4 separate regions of the Homo sapiens genome follow, and regions 1, 3 and 4 are each reported to be linked to region 2. The links are microRNA targets in miRTarBase. Many come from high-throughput screens and were not tested one by one. Region 2 holds a microRNA gene; each other region holds the end of a gene's coding sequence.
The links. Region 2 holds the annotated microRNA hsa-miR-3115 (AUAUGGGUUUACUAGUUGGU, at 1,677-1,696, opposite strand). A microRNA usually pairs through its seed, bases 2 to 8, with sites in the 3' UTR of a target mRNA and lowers its output. Matches are read on the target gene's strand: a 7mer-m8 pairs with bases 2 to 8, a 7mer-A1 pairs with bases 2 to 7 and ends in A, and an 8mer does both.

Region 1 (4,000 bases), not on the chromosome of region 2:
CTTGCAAGGTTAACTTCTCACTGGGCCTAGTGTGGTGCCCAGGTTTTTGCCTTGCTTCACTTCTGTCTCTACATTTAAATAGACGGGTTAGGCATATAAACCTTGGCTTTTCATAAGCTCTACCTGCCTATCCCCAGGAGTTAGGGAGGATCTATTTGTGATGGCCTAGGGTTTAAGAGCTGTGGAGGACTGAAAACTGGATAAAAAGGGGGTCCTTTTCCTTGCCCCTGTCTCTCACTCAGATGCGCTTCTTTTTCGCCACTGTTTGGCAGTTTTCTGTTAAGCCCCCCTCCCCCTGCCCCAGTTCTCCAGGTGCGTTACTATTTCTGGGATCATGGGGTCAGTTTTAGGACACTTGAACACTTCTTTTCCCCCCTTCCCTTCACAGTAACTGGGGCAGGGGCCTACGGGGAGGGGCTTGTACTGAACTATCTAGTGATCACGTTAACACCTAACTCTCCTTCTTTCTTCCAGGGGCCGGGCTAGAGCGACATCATGGTATTCCCCTTACTAAAAAAAGTGTGTATTAGGAGGAGAGAGAGGAAAAAAAGAGGAAAGAAGGAAAAAAAAAAGAATTAAAAAAAAAAAAAAGAAAAACAGAAGATGACCTTGATGGAAAAAAAATATTTTTTAAAAAAAAGATATACTGTGGAAGGGGGGAGAATCCCATAACTAACTGCTGAGGAGGGACCTGCTTTGGGGAGTAGGGGAAGGCCCAGGGAGTGGGGCAGGGGGCTGCTTATTCACTCTGGGGATTCGCCATGGACACGTCTCAACTGCGCAAGCTGCTGCCCATGTTTCCCTGCCCCACTTCACCCCCTTGGGGGCTGCTCAAGGGTAGGTGGGCGTGGGTGGTAGGAGGTTTTTTTTTTTACCCAGGGCTCTGGAAGGACACCAAACTGTTCTGCTTGTTACCTTCCCTCCGTCTTCTCCTCGCCTTTCACAGTCCCCTCCTGCCTGCTCCTGTCCAGCCAGGTCTACCACCCACCCCACCCCTCTTCTCCGGCTCCCTGCCCCTCCAGATTGCCTGGTGATCTATTTTGTTTCCTTTTGTGTTTCTTTTTCTGTTTTGAGTGTCTTTCTTTGCAGGTTTCTGTAGCCGGAAGATCTCCGTTCCGCTCCCAGCGGCTCCAGTGTAAATTCCCCTTCCCCCTGGGGAAATGCACTACCTTGTTTTGGGGGGTTTAGGGGTGTTTTTGTTTTTCAGTTGTTTTGTTTTTTTGTTTTTTTTTTTTTTCCTTTGCCTTTTTTCCCTTTTATTTGGAGGGAATGGGAGGAAGTGGGAACAGGGAGGTGGGAGGTGGATTTTGTTTATTTTTTTAGCTCATTTCCAGGGGTGGGAATTTTTTTTTAATATGTGTCATGAATAAAGTTGTTTTTGAAAATAAAAATTGTTTGGCCTTTTGGGTGTAAGGATTATTTATCTTCCTATTCTCTCTTAGATCGCAGATGGCTATTAATTCTGCCTTGTGGTAGAAGTACTGGTGTTGTGGAAGGGAGGTTGCCACTTGTGAATTAAGGAGTAGGAATTACATTACAACTAGCAGGAACATTATGTGTTTAGTTGAGAATGATAGGTTTTCTGGATAACATGTAACCCTGATTGGCATTTGAGAGAGAAATAAGCCTGGGAAAGTAAAAGAATAGCTGAATTGGGCCGGGCATGGTGGCTCACTGCTACAATCCCAGGACTTTGGGAGGCTGAGGTGGGCAGATCACGAGGTCAGGAGATCAAGACCATCTTGGCTAACATGGCGAAACCCCACCTCTACTAAAAATACAGAAAATTAGCCTGACGAGGTGGCGGGTGCCTGTGGTCCCAGCTACTCGGGAGGCTGAGCCAGGAGAATGGCGTGAACCCAGGAGGTGGAGCTTGCAGTGAGCCAAGTTCACACCACTGCACTCCAGCCTGGGTGACAGAGTGAAACTGTCTCAAAATAAAAAAAGGAATAGCCGAATTACTGACCTAATGGCGCTTTTGTGTGCTCCTGATACAGCTTACGTGCAAATGAACTATCCATGCCTGCAGCCCTAGAGCTTTGGATTGGGGTCTGGGTAACCTTGTCTTTGGGGTCTCGCTATGTTGACCAAGCAATCTTCCCATCTTAGCCTCCCAAAGTATTGGGATTACAAGTGTGAACCACTGCACCCAGCTACCTTTTCTACCTCAAGGTGGGCCCAAGAAATGCAGAAGACAAAATACACTTAGCTAAGAGACAATCGGAAAGCTTGTTTTTCCAACCATGCAGTAACCATTTAATGTGTCCAGCTAACTTATATTAATTGGATCATTTATTTTTTTGAGATGGTCTTGCTTTGTCACCCAGGCTGGAGTGCAGTGGCTCACTGCAGCCTCAACCTCCCGGGCTCAAGTGATCCTCCCACCTCAGTGTCCTACATAGCTGTGACTATAGGTGCCTGCCTTCACACTTGGCTAATTTTTTGTAGAGACAGTTTTGCTGTGTTGCCCAGGCTGTCCCAAACTCCTGAGCTCAAGCAGTCCTCCTGGCTTGGCCTTCCTATAGGCGTGAGCCACAGCTCCTGGCCAGGATTAGTTTATTAGGACTTCACAACTGGCTTTCACTGTTTTCATATCTAAATTTTGTCTTGGGCATCCTAATTTCTCCATTTTTTATTCCAGTGTCAGATTGGTCTTAAAACTTGAACACTACATCACTAGCCAGGTTGAACCTTCAGACTTCATTACCTATAGAATTTCTTAGTATTTCAACCTTACTATTTTTTCATTTACTTCTCAGGATGTTTTGTTCACAATTGCCTCTGACCTGGATGCTCTTCAAAAATCATATGTTAAAGAAATGGCTCTGTGGCCGGGCGCAGTGGCTCACACCTGCAGTCTCAGCACTTTGGGAGGCAGAGGTGGGCGGATCACTTGAGGTCAGGAGTTTGAGACCAGCCTGGCCAACATGGTGAAATCCCGTCTCTACTAAAAATACAAAAATTAGCCAGGTGTGGTGGCATGCACCTGTAGTCCCAGCTACTCTGGAGGCTAAGGCAGGAGAATCGTTTGAACATAGGAGGTGGAGATTGAGGTGAGCTGAGACTCAGCCACTGCACTTCCAGCCTGGGTGACAGAGCGAGACTCTGTCTCAAAACAAACAAAACAAAAAACTCTGTTATATCTGAAGCCTTAACCCACCTCTCAAATTGCAGTATTTTCTAAAATCTCATGTCAGTGTTATCCACCACATATTTTAGGATTTGGTCATTTATTCTACTTTCTGTTATGGGTTAGGCATTTGAGGTCTATCTTTTCTCCTAACTAGATTCACCTAAAATAGTGCCGTGATCTCTGTGGCTTCTGCAGAGGCTGATTAGTGAGGGTCTGGATAGTGTTCAATATAAACTTTTTACTGGAAGAATGAAACAGCCTAAGTGACTTGTTGCTGTTAATGCTGTGATGGTCTCATCTGTCCACCAGGGGGCACTAAATGGCTGGCTCTAAAAGATCCCCATAAATTGTTGGGTATTGGAGGGTGAATCATGTTTTGACCCTTCTCTGGTTTAGTTTTCCATATTCAGTCAATTCTACCATATCTTGTCTGTTCTCTCTATTCCTACTTTCACTGCTTGAGTAACTCCCCATCATCATTGCAGGGGTCCTGGCAGATGTATTGGCTTCAAATTTTTTTTTGAAAAATAAAAATTCCTAAAAAAAGTACTTTAAAAGATAGGGTCTCGCTATGTTGGCCAAGTTGATCTTGAACTCTTGGCCTCAAGCAATCCTCCTGCCTCGGCCTCCCAAAGTGCTAGGTTTATAGGCGTAAGCTACCATGCTCAGCCTCCAAACTTCTTATTGCCAAAAAAAGCCCTCTATGATGCCACCAATAAGTACAAAGTCCAAACACAAGCATGGAACTACAACCTTTTTCAATCTGATCCTGATTACATTTCTCTTCCAGATCCTGCCCTACACCTGATGTACTATGCATTGTAGTTGTTATTTATTTTCATGTATCCCTCATGCTGTTCCCTCTAG
Region 2 (4,000 bases):
GTGGGTTTTAAGAAGTCAAGATATGATCCTGGCACCAAGATACCCATGAGGGTCATCTGGCTTCATTAAGAGAAGAATGTTGATCTCTTACAAGCACATTTCTAACCCTGATTGATCATTTCACAAATGCATGCTTCTGAACGTGACAAAGATTGGAAGAGAGATCTTGAAGGTTTTACAACAGTCACCATCATTCCTGGAAACACTTAAAATTCATGTTCTACTAACAGTAATCAGCAGCACACTTTTATATGAAAGTCTGCTTTCACTTTCAGCAATATATGATATTGTTTACTTAATGCAAAAGAGCAAATAGTCACACACAAAAAAAAAACAGAAACAAAAAACAAGAAAACTCAACTTCTTTCTTCAAGATTAGAACTCTAAAGGCCATCCCTGATCTTCAACAGTTCCATGGAAGATCTAATTGTGCGTCATTTGATGAAAAGCATTCTTCAAGGTTTATATGCCACAGATCTAGACTCTGAACAGGGTTTAATTCTGCTAAGATAACCATGTACTGATTATCAACCTGCAATCCTTGGGACAGCATTTTTAAAAGTCTGCTCCTAACATTCTGGATCCCCTTATTACTAATTGCTGTATTAACAATGAACTACCTTTAGTTCAAGAGAGTGAAATAGAAACAGTCCCAGGACCTGTTATATGCAAACTGCAAAACAAATAATTTTAAAGTAGACTTAAGACAGTTGAAAAGTGACAACCTCCAAAAGTGAAGTAGTGCCTATTCCAATTCTATCAAAACGTATCTATAAACCAGCTTTGAGCAACTGGAACAAAAACATCCTTCAAGAGACAAAGGATGAAATCCAGATACGTTATTTTGGATTGCTGGGATAAATTTTAACTGTTCCAGATGGTGGCCCCTATAAATTCTTTACTTTTTCCTAGAAGTAAAAATCTCATACTGTTTGGTCTGAACAGAAAAAAGTATTTCAGACTTTTCAAAAGACATTTTTCACATGAGAAACAAAATGTTTAAACTGAAGAATGATTAACTACGTAATGTTAACTGAAAAAAGGTACCCAATACCCTGTAACAACCATTTTTAAAAAGATGTCACTTGCCCACATAGTTCCTCTGACTAGTCCTAGAATGCCTCTCAGTCCCGTTTGTTTTTGCTTTTAGACTTTTGAGCCTGTGACTTTTCCTCTCTGTGTATACTGCTGTATTTCTCTTTAAGGGTCCCATGATTCCTAAGTCTATGTTCTATATCATGTTTACTATTAATAGAAAGGCTGCTGGGGAGAAAAGTACCCGCCATCTCCTCGAAAACACAAAGAGTGGAGGGCTGAGATCGGCCTGAGGACTTCAAAAGGTTTTGCTTGCCTTTGTTCTCACTACACTCTCTCCTACTATACTATTATGTCCTGTGGGTTAAATTTCACCTGCGCTTCTGGCTAAAATGTGGATACCACAGCCAAAAACACTTGCAAGCATCAATTCCTACTTGGCGGCTCTTGCTACTAAGTGGCAAGCATCTAATGCCACCCTCACCTGATGCTTGGCCGTCTCCATACCCTCCAGAACTGTCGTCTTGAAGTCCTCCTGCTTGCCCTGTGGAAGGAAAGAGGAGAACTCAGGGACCTTACTCCATAAATTAGGATAATATCTGGACATAAAGGCCTAATAGTTGGCGACTCATGAATTCACCACCAACTAGTAAACCCATATTCAGAGAGCTCCTTCTTCTGGAATCAAGGCCCAGGGAATTACATCATAGTCTTCCAAATTCTGGTCAGGAAGTTTCAACTTTACATGTTGATTCTTGTTGAAAGGCAGTGGAACAAAGTACATAGTATTTCTAATCACTAAATCCTTGCTGTCAGTCTTATTTAATATTAATAGTCTGGATGGGGGAAAATGGATTCCGAGTGTCTTTTACTAACGGCTGCTAGACTGAAAATGGAGCTGACATAGACTCTAGAATCTGGCATTGCAATTCAGCATCAACTTAATATCCGTTTAACTTTCTAATTTTAATGAAAAATTATCTCCTTCTCTTCAAAGCAAGGAGTATAATTAAAAGACTCAGTCTCCAAAGAAGTTTCATTTACTATACACAGTAGACACTAGTACAGTTAAATATGCCAGTGCTTCCTAAATAAAACTAAAGAACACACAATAAGACACTGTGTGTGTGTGTGTGCCAAGTACTGTAGATAAACACACACTTGTGGTAACACAGAGAAAGGCAGGCAAGATCTTGAATCTTCTACTTCATGCTACATAATAAGCTTTGTTAAGAAATTTTCCTCACTGATTAATATGTAGAAGTAACTTCAAGAAAAGAATCAAAGCTTGAAAATTCAATCTGATAAAGAATAGATTGTCTTCTGAACTCTTCCAAAATCTATCATCAAGACAGATGCTATGATGCTCTTAAGCTTCTAGTCACCTGGTACACTATAGGAAAATGAGTGTGATCTTTGGAAGACATAAAATACCACCTCCCAATGATCTAGATAAACTCAGACAAGCTTCATTAAAGTTTATTTTAAAATACGTACCCCAATAAGAAAGCAGATTGATTATTCCACCATTTGAGTTAGAAGGGAACAACAAAGAGAATAAAAAGATACTTAGATATAAGAAATTATTTCTGACAATGATATTAGAATGTGTTGCTAGAAGATACATGCTCTGTTATGAAGGTAGAATAGAATCTCATTCTAAACTTATTTTACTAAGCTCTCGTCTGAAGGGTCCTTTAGGTTCAAGAAGGTTATGCTTCTCAGACAAGGCCCAAGGTATACCTATTTACAGCCCTTGGAAAAAGGCATACAATCATGAAGAGACGATCGGGTTACTAAATCCAATCTGCAAACTTATCTTGAAAATATAGGTCCTACATTTTAAACTCTACTATAAACTTAAAATCAGATATATTCACTCTTAGTAAATTCTGGCTTTATTCATAAAAAATATTTTGTAGAGCCGGGTGCAGTGGCTCAGGCCTGTAATCCCATCACTTTGGGAGGCTGAGGCAGGCAGATCACTTGAGGTCAGGAGTTCAAGACCAGCCTAGCCAACTTGGTGAAACCTTATTTCTACTAAAAACACAAAAGTTAGCCAGGTGTGGTGGTGCTCGCCTGTAATCCCAGCTACTCGGGAGGCTGAGGCAGGAGAATCACTTGAACCTGGGGGGCAGAGGCTGCAGTGAGTCAAGATCACACCATCGCACTCCAGCCTGGGCGACAGAGCAAGACTCCATCTCAAAATAATAATAATAGGCCGGGCGCGGTGGCTCACGCCTGTAATCCCAGCACTTTGGGAGGCCGAGGCGGGCGGATCACGAGGTCAGGAGATCGAGACCATCCCGGCTAAAACGGTGAAACCCCGTCTCTACTAAAAATACAAAAAATTAGCCGGGAGTAGTGGCGGGCGCCTGTAGTCCCAGCTACTTCGGAGGCTGAGGCAGGAGAATGGCGTGAACCCGGGAGGCGGAGCTTGCAGTGAGCCGAGATCCCGCCACTGCACTCCAGCCTGGGCGACAGAGCGAGACTCCGTCTCAAAAAAAAAAAAAAAAAAAAAAAAAAAAAATAATATATTTCATAGATTTTTAAAAAATGTTGCCATTGTTTCGTTTGGTTCCAAATAAAACCAAGCTGGATCAGAAAACTGAATTTTATTTGGGCAAGAAAGGGAGCAGGGAGGGACTCAGAACAATGAAACAAATAGTTTCCAAGAATCACACTTAAGATTAGGAATAATACAGCTGTTATCGTTCAAATTATGTTTCTGACTTGGCAAAAATAAAAGTGACAGTCTCTTGTCATGAAGGTATCTCACCACTAAAAACTTAGATAAAAACAGCAAAAAACCGACAAAACAAAAAACACACACTTTGAAGCTAGCCTAAGCCTGAATTACTTTATCTTTCCTATTCCTCTCATTTCCCTTCTTTTCCAACTATAATACATGTCATACAATAAACTCACTAATTTAAGCTACAGGTAGCTCTTGACTGATTTTTGT
Region 3 (4,000 bases), not on the chromosome of region 2:
TGTTCTCTGTAATTCAACAGTTTTAACATTTTAGTTTTATTCTTCCAAAATAGGCAAAATCCCTTAAAACTGGGATCATTTTGATCTATTTTGGTTTTAAAAATATATTTCCCTTTAATTCAACTTTTTAAAAAAATGAGTAATATTTGCTGAGCAGTTGCTTCACAATTGAAAAGAGCAATGAAATATTGCTTTTTCAAAACAAACTTCAGGCATCATTTAAATGCCGAGAATTCCAACTCTTCAAGTCTTGAGAGCTTGCCTTAAAAATTTCCATAGTGGTATACAAAGGACTCCAGGGTGCTTTCCTGTGGCTTCAGGAAGGGAAGGGAAGACATTTGCCCTGGGTAGTCTGGGACAGTCCCTTGAAAAGTCTATTTTTGTTTCTCTCCCCACTTGGATTCCAAAAAGCTAGTGCTGGCTCCAGTGCCACCAGAATACTCCAGGCCGTTGGGTTTTCAAATGTGAGAGGTTGGGTGATTTCAAGAATCTATAGAGATTTAAAATGTGCAATGAAGCCACAATTTCTGTTCAGATCCTCTGAAATATGGGGTGCAAGACCCCAATTTTGTGTGGAATCCTTCTCATGATAAAAATATTATTCTGGATACTTAGGAGATCTGTGACCATCAGCATCTTTATAAGAAAGTGACCTACAAAAGCTACCCCAATTTTCAAATTTGAAAGTTCAGTGGGGAGAAAGTAGTATGGATAATAGTAATGGTTACCATAGTTAAGATTATCCAATTTTCATAATTTCTATAAAAACTTTCAATGTGTAATCCTTATTTGAAATAGTATCAAAGGAACTATAAAAGAATTTTGTTGTTAACGTAACTCCGCTCTCCAGAAAATCAATTAGTGCAAATCATTTGAAGCAAAAAATCAGAACCATTTCACTGAGCAAGTCTTCAGAGATTTTTTAAAAAGAATATACAAATGCAAATTTGTTGTGCAGTATATAAAAGGGTGGCACCCCTTTTCACACTTAAAATTTCAGGCATTTACAGCTCTGATTCCATTTATAGTTAACAAGAAAAATATAAAGTGTTACTTTTTTACTGCAAAAATAAGGATCATTAGCAATCTAGAATTCAAATACTTAAGAAGCCATATGTCAATATTATTAAACTAATTAATTAGCTGTCAAAACCAATGAAGATTATAATGATCTAGTGTCTGACACATTTGATCTAGGGCTGTGAGACCACTGGGAATTCTACATATTAGACGAGTAATTTGTTTGCACTCTGATACTTTCTTCTCATAAAAATCACTTGGGAACCTTGTTAAGAATGCAAATTCTGATTTAGTAGACCTAGAGTGGCATGAAATTCTGCATTTTTAACAAGATACCAGATAATGCCAATCCTACTTACTGGTCCTCAGACCACACAGCTAGCAAAGGTCTAGAGAGGTCTAAATGAGGTTCCATTACAGTGATAGAACATGAAAATCTGATCTCTCAGCTCTGTCAGCTAACATTTCCCCAAACTTATTCTACAATGTTTCCTAAGCACCTCAACTTGCTTAAAATGCCAATCTTAAAATGCCAAATTAGTTTTTAATAATACCAATACTATTAATAACTATGCACAGGGGAAATTCATTGTTAAAGAATGACAAAAAGACATCTGTAAATTCACAGTGATATTTTACAAATATTTTAAATTGTACACAGGGTTCCTATTAAGTTAATACAATATCAAGTTTCACTGCCCGATTGCCTTACAGTTCTTAACTACAATTTATGGCAATAGATCTTATTCCATTCTGTTACTGGAGCTAAAAGAAAATCAAATTCATTTATGTCAAAATCCACATTGTAAACAGGGCTAATGAATGAAAACGAGTTCATGCTTTTTGAAGAACTCGGTTTAAACTGGTAGCCAAAGCAGTTGCAGTTAAAACTATGTCCAGAGTATAAATGCTTTGGCAGCCTTCAAAGCATACAAATTTTTCATATATCTGAGCTCTGCATAAGCAGGAACAAGAGGAAAACACTAGCATGCTCTCTTGGTGACTACAGCAAGGGACTATGAAGAAGGAAACCGCTGTGCAGTCACAGTGAAAAAGAGCCAAGAACTGGACAGCTCCTTAGGTCTTCCTCAACGGTCAACTGACTCAGCCTCAGCCGTGCTTTCTCTCTCTCACTCTGAATGATGACTTAAGTACATTTGCTTTACAGGGGAACCGCAACCATAGCCAAAAGGACCACGGCTAGCAAACATCAAACTTTTATTTCCATCTAGAGGTCACATACAGATACATACAAGTTTGTTTCAACTTCTGCCATGTCGTCTTTTTCATTTTTACTTTTTAGTTGGGAGGTAACTAAATTGATTATTCTTTTGATATCATACTAAGATATTTAAAACAGGCCTGTTCACTAACAAGAAAGACATTTCTTTTTCTTCGTGTTTTAAATTTAAGAACACAAACATAAACAACTTTAGTTAATATATAAATGTCCTTTGTCCATATTTCACTACCTTTATTTTCTTTCATGACATTTTATAGATGAAAAATGCATTTGCAGACAAACAATTACATATTATACAGTGGTATCTTGAGAGCTATGTTGCAAGATTTACACTGATTTCCAGGAAGTCTTCCAATGACGTATGCTCTGAATTATAGGAGTCCAAACTAACTAGGATTTCCAAAGTCCAGCAGTAGGGTAAATCAGCTTTACAGCCTATTATACCTTAATAATTGAAAGGGATCTTCACATGCTAAATCCAGATAAAACACTTCAAAACAACACACCTACCAGCAATCTGATTTTTGATATAAAAATGTTTCAGAGATAACAACAGAAATGCCTCTAGCCATCCCCTGGAATCATATAATATTCTAGGCACTGGGTTACCAGGCATTTTCCAGGGCTTTGAGCAAATTGTTCTAATCATAAAGATGATCTGCTTACAAATATTTTCATCAGGTGCTTTTCATACACATCATTTTTGTGTTTCCACATGCCTGTTTTCAGATTGGCTTCCTGACCAGGAGCTAGAGAATTCCTGGAGTTGTGCCTCTGCCCCATTCTCTATAAAACAGTTCCCATACATGCAGACTCCCTTTGACTCTGAAGGCCAAACACACAGCCATCAAAATAGGAGCTATTAAAAAACCAAACCAAACCAAAACAAGAAAAACCACCTTACAACCTCACATGAGACATAACCAACTTGATTAGACAACCTGTCAAAATTTATTGTCACTGACAATCTTAGGGCAACAATAACAAATAAGAGGAGGGAAAAAAAAGACTCAAACCAAGGGGAAAAAATCTTAATCAAGAAATAACAAAACCATATTTCAACTTACTGCAACCTAGACAATCTTCCCTTCATAAAGTCAGGGGAGCCTTCAGAATTTAAGACATCAGGGCTCCTGTCAGGAATACGGATGAAAGACCCAGGGTACTTTCATAAAGAAGCAAAGTTGTATTTCCAGGTTCACTAGGTTATGGGAGAAAAATATGTTACTAATTAATCTGTGGACAGAGTAATGCTAATACTAGGAGGTCTCTGCTGACCTGATTGATGCTTCATTGGAAGTTCAGTTCTTTCTGAAACGTAAATAAGCTTTTCTTCTTGGAGACTACAAGCGGAAAACCTATTGGCATCTGTCCCAGCCCCACAACCAACAGCAGATGACGGGTTATGTGGGACTGTGACACCACTGACTTGTTCAAAGGATTTACTAAATACAGTCGCTGCGGTCTTAGCCAAACCATGGCTACTAGGCTTAGGTAGGGATTGGCTGGTTGTTAAAGTAAGTCTCTTCAAAGAGAGAAGCTCAAGATTCTCACTTTGGGCTCTCTGAGTTTGTTTTCGAGCAAAGTGATCTTTGCAAGATTCCCCTGTAGTTTCTTTTTCTTTTCCTCCAGTTTTGCTTCCTCCTGACCGTCTGTGGTTCTTTCCTATACTTGGCTTGTTACTACAATTGTGACTACTGTTTGATAAACCCGACTGGCTGGTACTAGACGCAGCCC
Region 4 (4,000 bases), not on the chromosome of region 2:
GAGATCGCGCCACTGCGCTCCAGCCTGGGCAACAAGAGCGAAACTGCATCTCAAAACAAACAAACAAAAATATTTGTGGGGCTTCTAGATGACAGTTCCTTCCACAGGTGGACTTGTGTTTGTTTCTGCCAGACATGTCAGCTAGAAGTACCCTGTATCACACAGGACGTGAACCTGGCTGCGAACCTGTGCCGAGGGCCAGTCTGTGACCACAGATTATCAGAATCTTTCTTTTTTTTTCATTTGATTTCTGCCTCTTGAATACCTCTTCAGTCTTCCGGGTCATCCTTACCTGAGCTTGTAGCTCTCTGGAATCCCAGTTCCTGCAGTTGCTCACTGTGGGCTGGCTTTGGACTTGACTTTTGCCTGCTCCTTCCAGTAAGGCTGCCAAGTAGGAAACCCCAGTGTGTCCACATCAGCAAACACCCTGAGAGCAAATGTGGCTTCAGAGCCCCACATATCATTCTTTTTTTTTTTTTTTTTTTTTTGAGGCGGATTCTTGCTCTGTCTCCCAGGCTGGAGTGCAGTGGCGCAATCTCGGCTCACTGTAAGCTCCGCTCCCCGGGTTCACGCCATTCCCCTGCCTCAGCCTCCCGAGTAGCTGGGACTACAGGTACCCACCACTACACCCGGCTGATTTTTTGTATTTTTAGTAGAGATGGGGTTTCACTGTGTTAGCCAGGATGATCTCGAACCGCCCGCCTTGGCCTCCCAAAGTGCTTGGGATTACAGGAGTGAGCCACCGCGCCCGGCTCCCACATATCATTCTCTTAACTATTTGGCGTGGTGGGTCTTTACTGTATTTTATTGGCTATTTGATCCTTTGAAGGGCATTTTTTTTTCAGTTGTTCTCAACAGGAAGGTCCGAATAATCTAACTCACCCTCCCCACAAGATTCAAACCCAGGTCTTATTGATTCTAAAATCTAAGCATTGAATCACTACCATAATGTATCCTAGTCCTCTGGAAATTCTGATTTCCGGAGAAGAATGTCAGAGACTTAGCTGCCTCTCAATATCCATTTTTCCCTTCCTTTAAACTGAAAATTTAAGATATCCAGCTGGGCGTGGTGGCTCATCCCTGTAATCCCAGCACTTTGGGAAACTGAGATGGGTGGATTACTGGAGGCCACGAGTTCGACAGCAGCCTAGACAACGTGGTGAAACCCCGTCTCTACTAAAATACAAAAATTAGCCAGCTGTGGTGGCGAGTACCTGTAATCCCAGCTACTCAGGAGGCTGAGGCAGGAGAATCATTTGAGCCCGGGAGGCAGAGGTTGCAGTGAGCCGAGATCACACCACTGCACCCCAGCCTGGGTGACAGATTGAGACTGTCTCAAATAAATAAATAAAAAATTAAGTGGCTATTTAAAAACTTTAATTACAGGGATTTTTAGTAAAGAGTGTTTTGTTGGGCATATTGCACCCAGCTAAAAGACTGCATTTCCTAGACTCATGCAGCCCTTCTGTGGCTAAGTCTGACGGGTGAGATGTATATAGAAGCATAGTGTAGTGCTTCTGGGAGGAAGGGGGCCTCCCTTCCAGCAAAATGGTGATAGTAAAAGCAATATAATCTTGGCTGGGCATGGTGGCTCACTCCTGCAATCCCAGCACTTTGGGAGGCCGAGGCGGGCGGATCACGAGGTCAGGAGATCGAGACCATCCCGGCTAAAACGGTGAAACCCCGTCTCTACTAAAAATACAAAAAATTAGCCGGGCGTAGTGGCGGGCGCCTGTAGTCCCAGCTACTTGGGAGGCTGAGGCAGGAGAATGGCGTGAACCCGGGAGGCAGAGCTTGCAGTGAGCCGAGATCCCGCCACTGCACTCCAGCCTGGGCGACAGAGTGAGACTCCGACTCAAAAAAAAAAAAAAAAAAAATTTAAAAATTAGCTGGGTATGTGGCGTACACCTGTAGAAAACCCAGCTGCTTGGCAGGTTGAGGTGGGAGGTTTCCTTGAGCCCAGGAGGTTGCTGCAGTGAGCTGTGATCATACCACTGCACTCCAGCCTGGGTGACAGAGAGAGACCCTGTCTCTAAGGGAAAAAAAAAAAAAAAAAAATCTTGTTCAAGCTACTACTATTTTGAGATTTTTCAAATCCAAATTGACACAGATGAGAAGAGTAAAAAATAATCTCAGGCTAAGGGACTTGGCTAGGGATCCCTTCTCTTTCCACTTTTTCCATCCCCCATACACAGGCCTACAACTCCCCTCTCTTCCCAAACCCTCCCTTCACAACACACAAACCAGTCTGCACACAGCCTTATAAATATTGATTTTATAGAAAGGACCAATTCAAAATTGGTCAGATGCCACACGCTAGAAGCTTCCAGAACCACGATGGAAAGAAAAAAAAGAAAACAAAAAACAGAGAGAACAAACAAAAATACCCCAGACCAAAATGCCTGAAAAATCAAGGTCCTGGTTGACCAAAGGATTCTTAAAGAAACATGTGGCTGGGGTGAGGAGACCCCAATGCCTGAACGAGACCCCAGAGTGGAAGGAAAAACAACCCAGAAATGCAAATCCGAAGTCCCTGCCCACGGGGCCCCCCCACGCTGTCAAAAGCGAGGCAAAGGGCTTCACAGCTTTATGGGGGTGGGGTTGATGGCAGTAGCTTAAATAATAACGGGAGGAGGAGGGTTTTTATACTTCAGCTTTTTTTTTGTCTGCCCCCCTCTTCCTCTACGCGGAAGAGGAGAGACTGGTAGCTTGAGGTTAAGGAGAAAACAGTATTTCCCCCCCACTTCTTTAATAGGCAAACCATCTAGAAATGGACTGTCATAAAAAAATGCCAGATCCCACCTGTGACCTGACAGCCCCCAATTCCTAGAGAGGTGAGAGCTGTCGTGTGGCAGGTTAGGAGAGGTGCCAACCTTGGGCGATGCGGCTTCTTGGGAAATAACAGCTCCAGCGAGAAAGAATTGGGGTGAGGGAGAGGATGGGGGCCAGAATGGGGGGACCCTTAAGTGGTACCAAAATTAGCTGCCGTCTGCTCCCTGCTGGTGGGTCCTTGGGGTGGAAAGCATGGCAGGGAGGGGGTTGGGGCTGAATGGAGAAGAAAGTGAGATGCTGATAAAAAAAAAAAAAACACCCTTCTCAGAGGGTCCACGGCCCTGGTTCTGAAGAGTAGAAAATCAACAGGATCAAGCAGAGGGCTTTCCTGGGTCACCCCTGCTGAACCCCAGCTCAGTTCCGGTGAGGGATCAATGCTGCCTGGAGTAGGGGAATGGGCAGGCGGCCCAGTCCGGACCCTCGGCTCCCGGGGGGAGAGGGGAGGGGTGGGCGTGGTGGGCTCTCCCCTCCCCTCCCCCGGCTTCACCTCCCCTCCTCCCGGCCGGCCCGGCCCCCGCCTGGCCCATTGCAGGGCAGCACCCAGTTGTTATCGTGGAGGCCCAGGCGGCAGCCGGGAGTCTCGCGGTCGGCTCGACGGCAGCACATCCAGTAGGAACGTCCGTAAGGCAGGTCATGGTGGTAGGGCTTGGGGTGCCAGCGGCAGAGCGACACGTCGCCCTTCTCGTATCTCTTGCGGCACTGTTTGCACGGATCATCGCGGTAGAGCGGGTCTCGGCTCCAGCGCGAGTCTGTGGCCCGCACGCCAAACGCCTCGATGATGCCCTTGAAGTGGTGGCAGGTGCACTTGAGGGCGGCCAGCGCGCGCGTGGGCAGGAAGCTGAAGATCTTGACCAGCACGTGCTCGGGCAGCAGCAGCATGTACTGTCGCGGCTCCAGCAGCCGCTGAATCTTGAAGCGGATCTCTAGGAAGTCGTGCGACACGTGCCGGTACAAGCGGCACAGGGAGGTGTCCGCCGTGCCCTCGGCATCGTCTGGGCCGGGCGCAGTGGCCGGGGAGTCGGCCGGGGGTGGCTCCGGGGGCCCGTCCGGCCCGCGGTTCTGGAGAAAGAAGAGCTGGCCCGGAGGCGGCGGTTCCTCCGGGCTGACCGTCAGGCACACAGTCTCCTCCTTCACGTTCTTGGTGCCGTCCTTGCCAAAGAAGATGCAC

Region 1: the mRNA of PABPN1 is a reported target of hsa-miR-3115. Seed matches in the 3' UTR shown: 7mer-A1 at 666-672.
Region 3: miRTarBase lists HYCC1 as a target of hsa-miR-3115. Seed matches in the 3' UTR shown: 7mer-A1 at 3,470-3,476.
Region 4: miRTarBase lists FBXO46 as a target of hsa-miR-3115. Seed matches in the 3' UTR shown: 7mer-A1 at 2,588-2,594.

The regions. Positions count from the first base shown.
Region 1 is chr14:23,324,773-23,328,772 of GRCh38, forward strand. It overlaps PABPN1 (poly(A) binding protein nuclear 1), which reads left to right. Exons shown (of 7, transcript NM_004643.4): 7 at 475-1,391. The coding sequence ends at 514. It overlaps BCL2L2-PABPN1 (BCL2L2-PABPN1 readthrough), which reads left to right. Exons shown (of 8, transcript NM_001387346.1): 8 at 1-1,391. Among named protein-coding and RNA genes, the nearest start is that of PABPN1, 5.3 kb to the left of the region's middle. RefSeq lists a silencer at 3,421-3,510.
Region 2 is chr1:23,042,006-23,046,005 of GRCh38, reverse strand. MIR3115 (microRNA 3115) reads right to left here and starts at 1,701; the gene lies at 1,634-1,701. It overlaps KDM1A (lysine demethylase 1A), which reads right to left. Exons shown (of 21, transcript NM_001009999.3): 3 at 1,520-1,579.
Region 3 is chr7:22,942,095-22,946,094 of GRCh38, forward strand. HYCC1 (hyccin PI4KA lipid kinase complex subunit 1) reads right to left here. Exons shown (of 11, transcript NM_032581.4): 11 at 1-4,000. The coding sequence ends at 3,495. Among named protein-coding and RNA genes, the nearest start is that of HYCC1, 70 kb to the right of the region's middle.
Region 4 is chr19:45,708,369-45,712,368 of GRCh38, forward strand. It overlaps FBXO46 (F-box protein 46), which reads right to left. Exons shown (of 2, transcript NM_001080469.2): 2 at 2,261-4,000. The coding sequence ends at 3,316. Among named protein-coding and RNA genes, the nearest start is that of QPCTL, 18 kb to the left of the region's middle.